Linked DNA regions of Homo sapiens: region 2 is linked to region 1. The links come from fine-mapping of genetic effects on gene expression. A gene starts in region 1. The other region holds a variant in brackets. All regions are shown on one strand. Distances are from middle to middle.

The links.
Region 2: its variant is fine-mapped to the expression of SNX5 in whole blood (TOPMed, PIP above 0.99).

Annotation. Positions count from the first base shown.
Region 1 is chr20:17,966,614-17,970,950 of GRCh38, forward strand. SNX5 (sorting nexin 5) reads right to left here and starts at 2,181. Exons shown (of 13, transcript NM_014426.4): 1 at 1,762-2,181. The coding sequence starts at 1,812. It overlaps MGME1 (mitochondrial genome maintenance exonuclease 1), which reads left to right and starts at 2,405. Exons shown (of 5, transcript NM_052865.4): 1 at 2,405-2,528; 2 at 3,188-3,757. The coding sequence starts at 3,247. RefSeq lists enhancers at 894-1,648, 1,510-1,559, 1,610-1,779, 1,649-2,403, 2,020-2,329 and 3 more and a silencer at 1,810-2,019.
Region 2 is chr20:17,924,670-17,929,058 of GRCh38, forward strand. No RefSeq gene overlaps it. Among named protein-coding and RNA genes, the nearest start is that of SNORD17, 36 kb to the right of the region's middle. The variant G/A (reference allele first, on the strand shown) is at 2,556.

The sequences.
Region 1 (4,337 bases):
CCTGAAGAATCAAGTATGTCCCCCTACCTTAGTGAGTCTTAATTAACTCCATCCTTAGGGAGAATTCCAAACCAAAGTAAATTATCAGGAGGGCATTTAAACAATTTAAGTAACACACATTTCAGGTAACACACAAAACATTTCAGTTGACTACCGAAATTGTATTATGGCAAAAAGTTGCCCAAGACTTAGTTTCCCATTATTTCATACTTGCCCCAAACTCCCTTTCAGTTAACCATAACACCATCTAGGCCAGACCACAGCAGGTTATCAGCATCAGCAGAGATCAGAAAACAAAAATAAAGCCACGCGTCAGGGTAATTATTTATTTTTATTGTCTCTTTATTCCTGTAATGTAAAAAGGAAAACAATGTCATGTAACTCTCTTCGCTACAGATACGGACAGTTTCTGTAGCCTCTAAAACAGGCAGGAAATGGCCTTCATAACCATTCTCCAATTTTGCTGGAGGATCAGGGTGGTGGAAGTCATTTTAAAAACCAGCTGCAATATACTGTACTACCAGAGAGTGGGGTGAAGCAATTGAGTCCTTTTACCTAGCTGACTCCGAATCAAGACAGCTAAAAGAATGTACCAGAAAGAAAGAAAAAATAAAATGCTACCAAAATCCCAATCCATTATCTACCCTTTATGGAGAAAAGTACCTTTATAATGTTTTACAAAGAATCGTGGTCTCAAGTTTCCACTTTGTTTTAGTAATAAAGAACTTTCAAAAAAAAAACCACTCTAAACAACACCCTCCTGTATAGAAAGCTCTATTTTAATAATTAATGCAATGATACCCTTGTTGGAACAATCCAGCCGCTTTGAAACTCTGGTATTTACTTACTAGATGAACAAGTTTCTCTATGGAGGTGCCTTTAACTTCTCAAGAAATGTGTAAGTTAAGACGGCTCCAAATTACATTTTAAGAGAGCCTTGTATTTTTAGAGGTTCTTTTTCATCGGTCAGAAAAACTTACGTTGACGATTCTGCAAGAAAGGTTGCTCGCAAACCATGCATCGCAAAGCTACCGAGGCAAATTTAAAGAACCAATGAAAAAGAGTGGAGGCTCGTCTGAATCTTTAATTGGCTATGGGAATTTCAATTTATTGCATAAATAATCTTTTAGACCTCAAGATACACGTGACCTAGGGACAGTTTACATCAATGGGCAAGACTTAAAAATAGACACCAAGTTCAGCAAGTATTTGAGCACCTACTAAAAATTACACAACTCCCACAACAACGCATTTTGCGTTTCTAAAGTTGTAAGCAGCATGTTCGGACGCTTGATGCAATTTCCCAAGTTGTTTGGGCCCCCCCCCCAAAAAAGTCTTCTCAGTAAAAGGTGGGGGGAAGGAGGGTATTTTGGGGGCAACAAACCAAACTGGTCTGTCGCATGTTAAGTCAATTTCACGTTCACCTACTGGTCACCACGAAGCCGAGGAAAGTTTTAAAAAGAACATTCCGGGGTCTCCAGAGATCATCTCTCCAAGTCCGCTCGGCACCGGCGCCTGAGCTGGGGCTAAGGTCCCGCGTCTCTGGTTCTGTCCTAATAGAATCCGGGACATCCACAGGGATTCCCCGGGGCAGCCTTCAGTGAAGACCAGGGAGAGGGGCCGCCCGGGTCTCACGGGTGCTTCCCGCGCTGGGGATGGCGGCGAGCAGCCACGGCCTATGGACGCGCAAGGGAAAGAATGCAGCGACCCCGGAGCTCGCAGGGCCGCCCGCCCAGGAGTCTGAGGCTGGGAGGACCTCACCTTGCTGCGGTCCTCCTCCTGCTGCTGCAGCAACTCGGGAACCGCGGCCATGGCGACGCGGGACTCGAGCAGGGGCCGCCTGGCTGTGCGAGGAAAGAAGAAGCTGGGCCGCCGCCGCCGCCGCCTGGGCGCCTCTCGGGGGCGGCCACGGCCCCGCCTCCGCCGGCCTCCCTGCCCGACGGCGGCAGGAGGCCTCCGGACTCCGCCACCATCCCAGCTGCCCCGGGAGCAGGCGAGCAGGGCGCCACGTGCTCCCCCAGAGCAGCCTCCCAGTCCCCGCTGCCGTCCATCTTGGAGCCGGGCAAAGACGCCACGTGGGGCCTACCCTTGCTCCGCTCCACGAGGAGGCCGCCAACCGCAGGGCCGCGACACGGACGGGAAGCAACGGACACTCTCCCAGCAAGACGCGTCTAGAGAAAGACCGCGTTTCGGTGCGGGGGGAATTTATTACTCAGCCCGAGTCCAAGATGGCAGCGAGCGCTGACGTCACCAGATCTCGTGAGAGCAGAAGGGCGCGATTTGGAGGCTCCCGCGCTTCGGAGACGCCGGCCCTTCCGCTCGGAGAGGTACTCCCTGCCTCTAACTGGTGGCGCGTTGGCGGAGGCCGACGAAAGCCTCGGGTGGGGCGTGAGCGCCGCGGGGCATTCTGGACCTGCTTTGCCTTAGGCTGTGCCTAATTCGAAACCAAAGCGCGGGACGGATGAAAGTACGGGTCGCGAGAGGTTGTTCGCGCCTTGAGAGTTAAGCGAAGTGTGGTGGCTTCCAAGGTACCGACACTTGCCGTAGGCTGGGCTTTTATTTAAGTCGTCTTTTCTCTAATCCAGACTCCTGCCACAGGGGCCACCGCCGTCCTGGCCCCGCCAGGGGTCCGCACCCACGGCGGAGCGGGAGGCGACTTTTTGCGGTCACAGTAATGGGACCTCAGCGCCGCCACCAGCTCTGACCGGCGAGCGACGGGACCCTCCAACCCGATTTCCACGTCTGTGCAACGGGTTCATTCTAGACCCACGGTAGAGGGTGTGAGGACCAAATGAGAAGTATCCACACAGAATACTTAGCAGAGAGCCTGGTGTCTAGGAATTAGTCGTCGTCTGTCACCTAGGACTGTGTGGCCGCCATGGGACGGGCTCCATCTTTGTGTTTTTCCGTGTCTCGCACACGCCTCCCTTCCTGGGCGTCACATTCCTGCAGATTAGAAACTGGGACGTCTTGCCTCAAGCTGTCTACTAATTCGCATTTAGTATGTGTCGGTCCTTCGGGTATTGAGTCTTGATTTATTTATAAATTTTTTTTGGAGGCAGGGTCTCGCTCTGTCGACTTTCTTAAGAAAGGGCTCTGTCCAAACATGTCGAAAAAGTTCACAATTTTGATGTGCAATATCATTCTGATGCAGCTTTCGCTTTGATGGTTGTTTTCTCTCCAATAGGAATACAAACATAAAGGCCTTCGACCGTTGCAAATAGACTAAAGTGAAAACAAATCTGAATGAAGATGAAGTTATTTCAGACCATTTGCAGGCAGCTCAGGAGTTCAAAGTTTTCTGTGGAATCAGCTGCCCTTGTGGCTTTCTCTACTTCCTCTTACTCATGTGGCCGGAAGAAAAAAGTGAACCCATATGAAGAAGTGGACCAAGAAAAATACTCTAATTTAGTTCAGTCTGTCTTGTCATCCAGAGGCGTCGCCCAGACCCCGGGATCGGTGGAGGAAGATGCTTTGCTCTGTGGACCCGTGAGCAAGCATAAGCTGCCAAACCAAGGTGAGGACAGACGAGTGCCACAAAACTGGTTTCCTATCTTCAATCCAGAGAGAAGTGATAAACCAAATGCAAGTGATCCTTCAGTTCCTTTGAAAATCCCCTTGCAAAGGAATGTGATACCAAGTGTGACCCGAGTCCTTCAGCAGACCATGACAAAACAACAGGTTTTCTTGTTGGAGAGGTGGAAACAGCGGATGATTCTGGAACTGGGAGAAGATGGCTTTAAAGAATACACTTCAAGTAATTATCTCAATTCTGATTCTATATGTTTGCTATGTTTTCTATAATAGAGAGCAACGGTGTCAAAAGAATGAGGTTTGGTTTTGTTTTTTTAACTTACTAGCAAGGAACTCCCTTCAGATAGTAATTAACATTAAATAGCACTTTATGTGTATTAACTCACTTGATCCTCATGGTAGTCCTGTGGAGTATAGATACTGTTATCCACATTTTACAGATGAAACTAAAATAGATCAAATATTTGACTAAATAATACATAAAATTCACTTGTTTTATAAGCTACCAACAATATTAGAATTGCTTGTTTTCCTTGATTATTGAAAAAAGTCACCTGGTAACAGAATTCTAGTTGTTTGCTAGATAATTCTGTTTAGAATCCAGTAAATACCCACTGTCCTACTTATTAGCGTAAACTGACTCGTAAATTTAAAGACCTTGAAGCAGACCAGAACACATGACCTATATTTAGACCTTGGTAAACATAATCAGAGGTTCTTCATAAGGATCTGAGGATAAATACACTTTAACCTTCAACTTCTAATTTACTAACTTGGACAAGTGAGGAGAATAGCTTCCTTAA
Region 2 (4,389 bases), 42 kb before region 1:
AACATGGTGAAACCCCGTCTCTACAAAAAATACAAAAATTAGCCAGGCATGGTGGCATACACCTGTAGTCCCAGCTACTTGGGAGGCTGAGGCACGAGAATTGCCTGAACCTGGGAGGCAGAGGTTGCAGTGAGCCGAGGCCGCACCACTGCACTCTAATCTGGGTGACAGAGCAAGACTCCATCTCAAGAAAAACATAACAAACCAAAACAAAACAATAGACCTTGCCCCCAGATTCCCAGATTTTTGAGAAGAGCTGCTTTTGTGGACAGCTTAATGCATGCCTACCCTCTCATTCTCATGTCAGCATCTCTCTGCCATAAATCTAAAGAATGACTCTCTGGGGCACAGGATTTAGACATCATTTATTGTAATCGAGAGTGGCAATTTGCCCCTCAAAAGGCTAGATCCCCACCACCATTGGTATCTTGTTGTAACTCACATGTTCCTGAATACCAACGAGACGGAGCTTCTTTTTGTATGTGTATTATCCATATATATGTCCTTTGAAGCCAGCCTCAAGTCCAGGAAGTCAGCCAAGTCCTGGGTTGTGATAATCCTCCTGCAGCCTCATCTGGTTTGAACTTCCCAGAAGTCCTAGGAGGTGAACCAGGCAGGGATAATTTCCTCTTTAAACATTCCAGTTCCTCCTGTGGGACATTGAGGCTGAGGCTGCACCCAGGCCACATGCATATGTATTTATTGGCAGGGCTGGGCCTGAGACTAGGTCTCCTAGCCTAGAATTCCCTCCAAAGATTCACGAGAGTCCAAAGACTAACACCCATGGCCCGGGTCCAAAAGTTCACTAAGAGGACAGGCTGAGGCTACATGATGGGGGAAGGGGGGAGTCAGAATTAGGGCCAAGAACTAGATCTGGGAGGTCAGGGAGGGAAAGGAGAAACAGTGAGAAACTGTGACGCAGCACAACATATATCTCAGCACTGGGAATGTCTATCTTCTGGCGCTGTCGGAGGAGATAAGTAGATTATCTGTCAGCCCAACAGTCTAAGCAAAGAAGAAGCCAGGAGTTCCTTCCGTCAATTCACCTAATCTTTTAACACTGCTTATCGGTGGGGTCGATGTAACTCAAACCTCCTAAAACAACACGGGGTTTATCCTGTCCGACTCAAGCAATGAACTTGCAACTACCAAGACATCAGGCCAAACCATCACTCATTTTGCTCAGGTGTGCCTTTGTGCAAATACTCACCCTGCCAAGTCTGGGAGGCCATTTCCAGAAACCATGGGTGGTGGGTTGTAATGGCCGGTCTGCCTCGTGGCAGGCAAGCAGGTAGCAGTGAAGGAACATGCCATGAGAAGTGGGTGCAAAGAGAGAAGATCTCAGAGTTGGGTGGAGACTTAGAACCATCTAACCCAATCCTTACCCACATTCATAGGTTCAAGTACCAGGTCTCTGCACCATTTCTAGACATTACTTAGCTTCCCTGAACCTCAGTTTATTCATCTGTAAAATGGGCTCTGCCTGCAGTGGGTGACATTGGGGCTGCACCTGTATCCTGCAGACCCTGATCATCCCTGTGTACAACTTTGCCTGTGTGCTTAGAAGTGTTAGAGAATTCACACTCCCAGGAGCAACCCCCCCAAATAGCCTAACACCCCAACTCCTGAGGGGCAGGATCATTCTTAGGTATGAGTTCTACACTGTCTCCCAGGGACCCCCCATGAGACTGAGCTCCAGCTACCCACAGCAATGAGGTGCTTGACAATACACCCCAAATCAGTCGCCCTCCTCTCCCTCTTTCACTTCCCTACAGCCCCTTGAGATCACTGTCCATATAAAACACTTGCACAAGAATCCATGCAACAGAGTCAGCTTCTGGGGGAACCCAAATTAAGAAACTTTCCAACTTTCTCACAGTGTTGTTGGTAAGATCAGGTACAGCTCTCAGACAAAGGTCGAGGTTATCAGCATGAAACCGTGGCACTATTCTGTGTGCCAGGCAAAGGGAGCCACAGGTTAGTCTGAGTTGGGTATTCTGGGGCTTTTGAACTCTAGGTGGTCACATGGAGACTTTAAGGTAGAATGAACATAAGCCGTAAAAGACAGCAGAGTTGGAGCCTACTGGGCTCCGCCTGGTTTTAACTGCTCCCAACACAACAATCACAACTGCCAATCTCCAAGTTCCAAAGAACTGGCTCTGCCAACGACTCAGAAATAAGTTTTGAGCATAATCTAGCCCGTAGTTGATATCAAGCAGAAGATGTGATCTGTGGTTCTCATAGCTCACAATCTATGCAGAACCCAAAGAGAATATGTAACAATTAACTGAGCAAAACCAGCAGCAAATCCTGGAACATCGTGTGGAACTAGAAGAAGATGGTGGTTTGTTGAAAGAACACAGGAGCCCTGAAGGAGCTCCAAATGGTCAAGGTTGGAAGAATTTAAACAATAAGAAAAATAATGATAGTTTAGGACAATAACCCATAGAGTTAAATAAATGTCCACAAGTCCACACTGATATAAGTATTTGATTAAATAAGTCAATAGGGAAGTGACAGCTCTTCCTTGCAATGAAAATCCAGTCAATCCATGC[G/A]GAAGGAAGGAGCAAAGGAGAAATCAGCATTAGGTCAACACCACAGTGGTGATTGTTGCAGACAAGAGCTGCTAATAGACAACAGAATAGGTGGAAGGTTTGAGGAAAAAAGGGGTTTGCAAAGCCTTAAGTATCTCTTCCAGGAGGTTTGTTGACAAGGGTGGGGTTTGGGGACAGAAAAAACATTACCAAGGAAAAGCCCATCAGAGACCACTTGACCAGGTGATCAGGGCCATCATCACAGACGTAAGCCATCAACGCCATGCCCCCGTGACACGTGCAGTGAGCAGGATGCAGCCCCAGGCCTCTGGCGCCCTTGCCTGGGATGCACAACCTGAGCCCAAGTTCAGACAGGCCTGAACTAAGAGACTTCTGCAAAGTAACTGATCAATACTCTTCATGGGTATCTAGGTCCTGAAAGACAAGGAATGACCAAGGAACTATTATAGAGTCTAGAAGACTAGAGAGAAAAAAACAACTATATGCAAATGCGGGATCCTGGATGGGATTCTGGAGCAAGAAAAAGACGTTAATGGGAAAACCAGTGAAGTTCACACGGGATCTTTGGTTTGATTAAGGCTGCTGTACTGAGGTTAATTTCCTGGTTCTGATTACTGTGCTATGGCTTTGCAAATTGTGCTATGGTTTTGCAAGATTGGGGTCAACTGCTGGAGGGACATAGAGAAGTTGCCTGTACCAGGCTTGCAAATTTTCTGCTACTTTTACTACTAGTTTTCTAAAAGTGGGTCAAAATATAAAGGTTTTTTAAAAAAGCATCAAATGTCCAGTTTTTCAGCAGTATCTTTATTAGAAAAGGAACAATCCCCACATTGTGTTGATGTGAGCAGTACTCAAAACTGAGGCAACAGATCTCAAAATATTTTGGCATGTGGGAGTGGGGAGGTAAAGGCTGAAGCCTCCTCTGTCCGAAGCATGCCCCCGAGGCTGGGAGGAGGCAAAAATGACAAATCACATCTGAATCTGTTTGGCAGAAAAAATGTCCAGTGACCTGTCCGAGGGCCAGTCACACATTTATCAGGAGTATTAGCAGCTCCGCATTCCCAGTGCAGGTCTCCCAGGTCCACGCCCTAGCCTCAGCCCAGGACAGGCTCTGATTTCTCCGAAAATGATGTGCAAATCTGTTTCAAACCACATGACCTTTTGCCACAACCTCTTTGTGGCTTGTTCTATTGGATCAGAAGCCAGGAGTATTTTCGGAACATTGCTAATGCTCTGAGCATCTCAGTTCTAGGCCTGTAGGCCACATATGATGTGCGTTGGGCCAGAGGCCCAGGTCAAGGTGTCTCGAGGGAAATTGGAGTCAATGGTGAAGTGAGAAAGCTCTTGTGAGGCCTTTGGCCCCAGTGGGAGGGCCAGGGACAGAGGTGGGCCTGCCTGGTGAGCCCACCTGCAGGCAAGAGGCACCCTGGGGAGGTGCCAGGAAGCAGGGCGCAAGGCAAGGAGGCAGGAACAGCCACGTCTGCTCCTGCCCTTTAAACAAATACCAGGCTGTTCGAGTCCAGAGAAGAAATAAATATTGACAAAGGTGCGGAGCGGCAGGAAGGCCAGGTGGCCGAGGCCCCAGAAGGAACATGGCCTAGATAGGGTCTCCTGGGATGACTGCGAGGAAGCCTCAGCCCCGAGCCACCCTCCCCAGGGGCCCTTGGCGAGGCTGCCTCTACGGAGGTCCTTCCCCCGTCTCGGCAGGTGCTTCGGCACCTTGAGGGCTTGGACTCAGGCTGTCAGGATGAGGAGCCTATCCACGGGATCAGTTGCTGGTGTTTGCCAAAGGTGTGTCCCAGAGGGGCCACCCGTAGCCTCTGACGGTGCCACG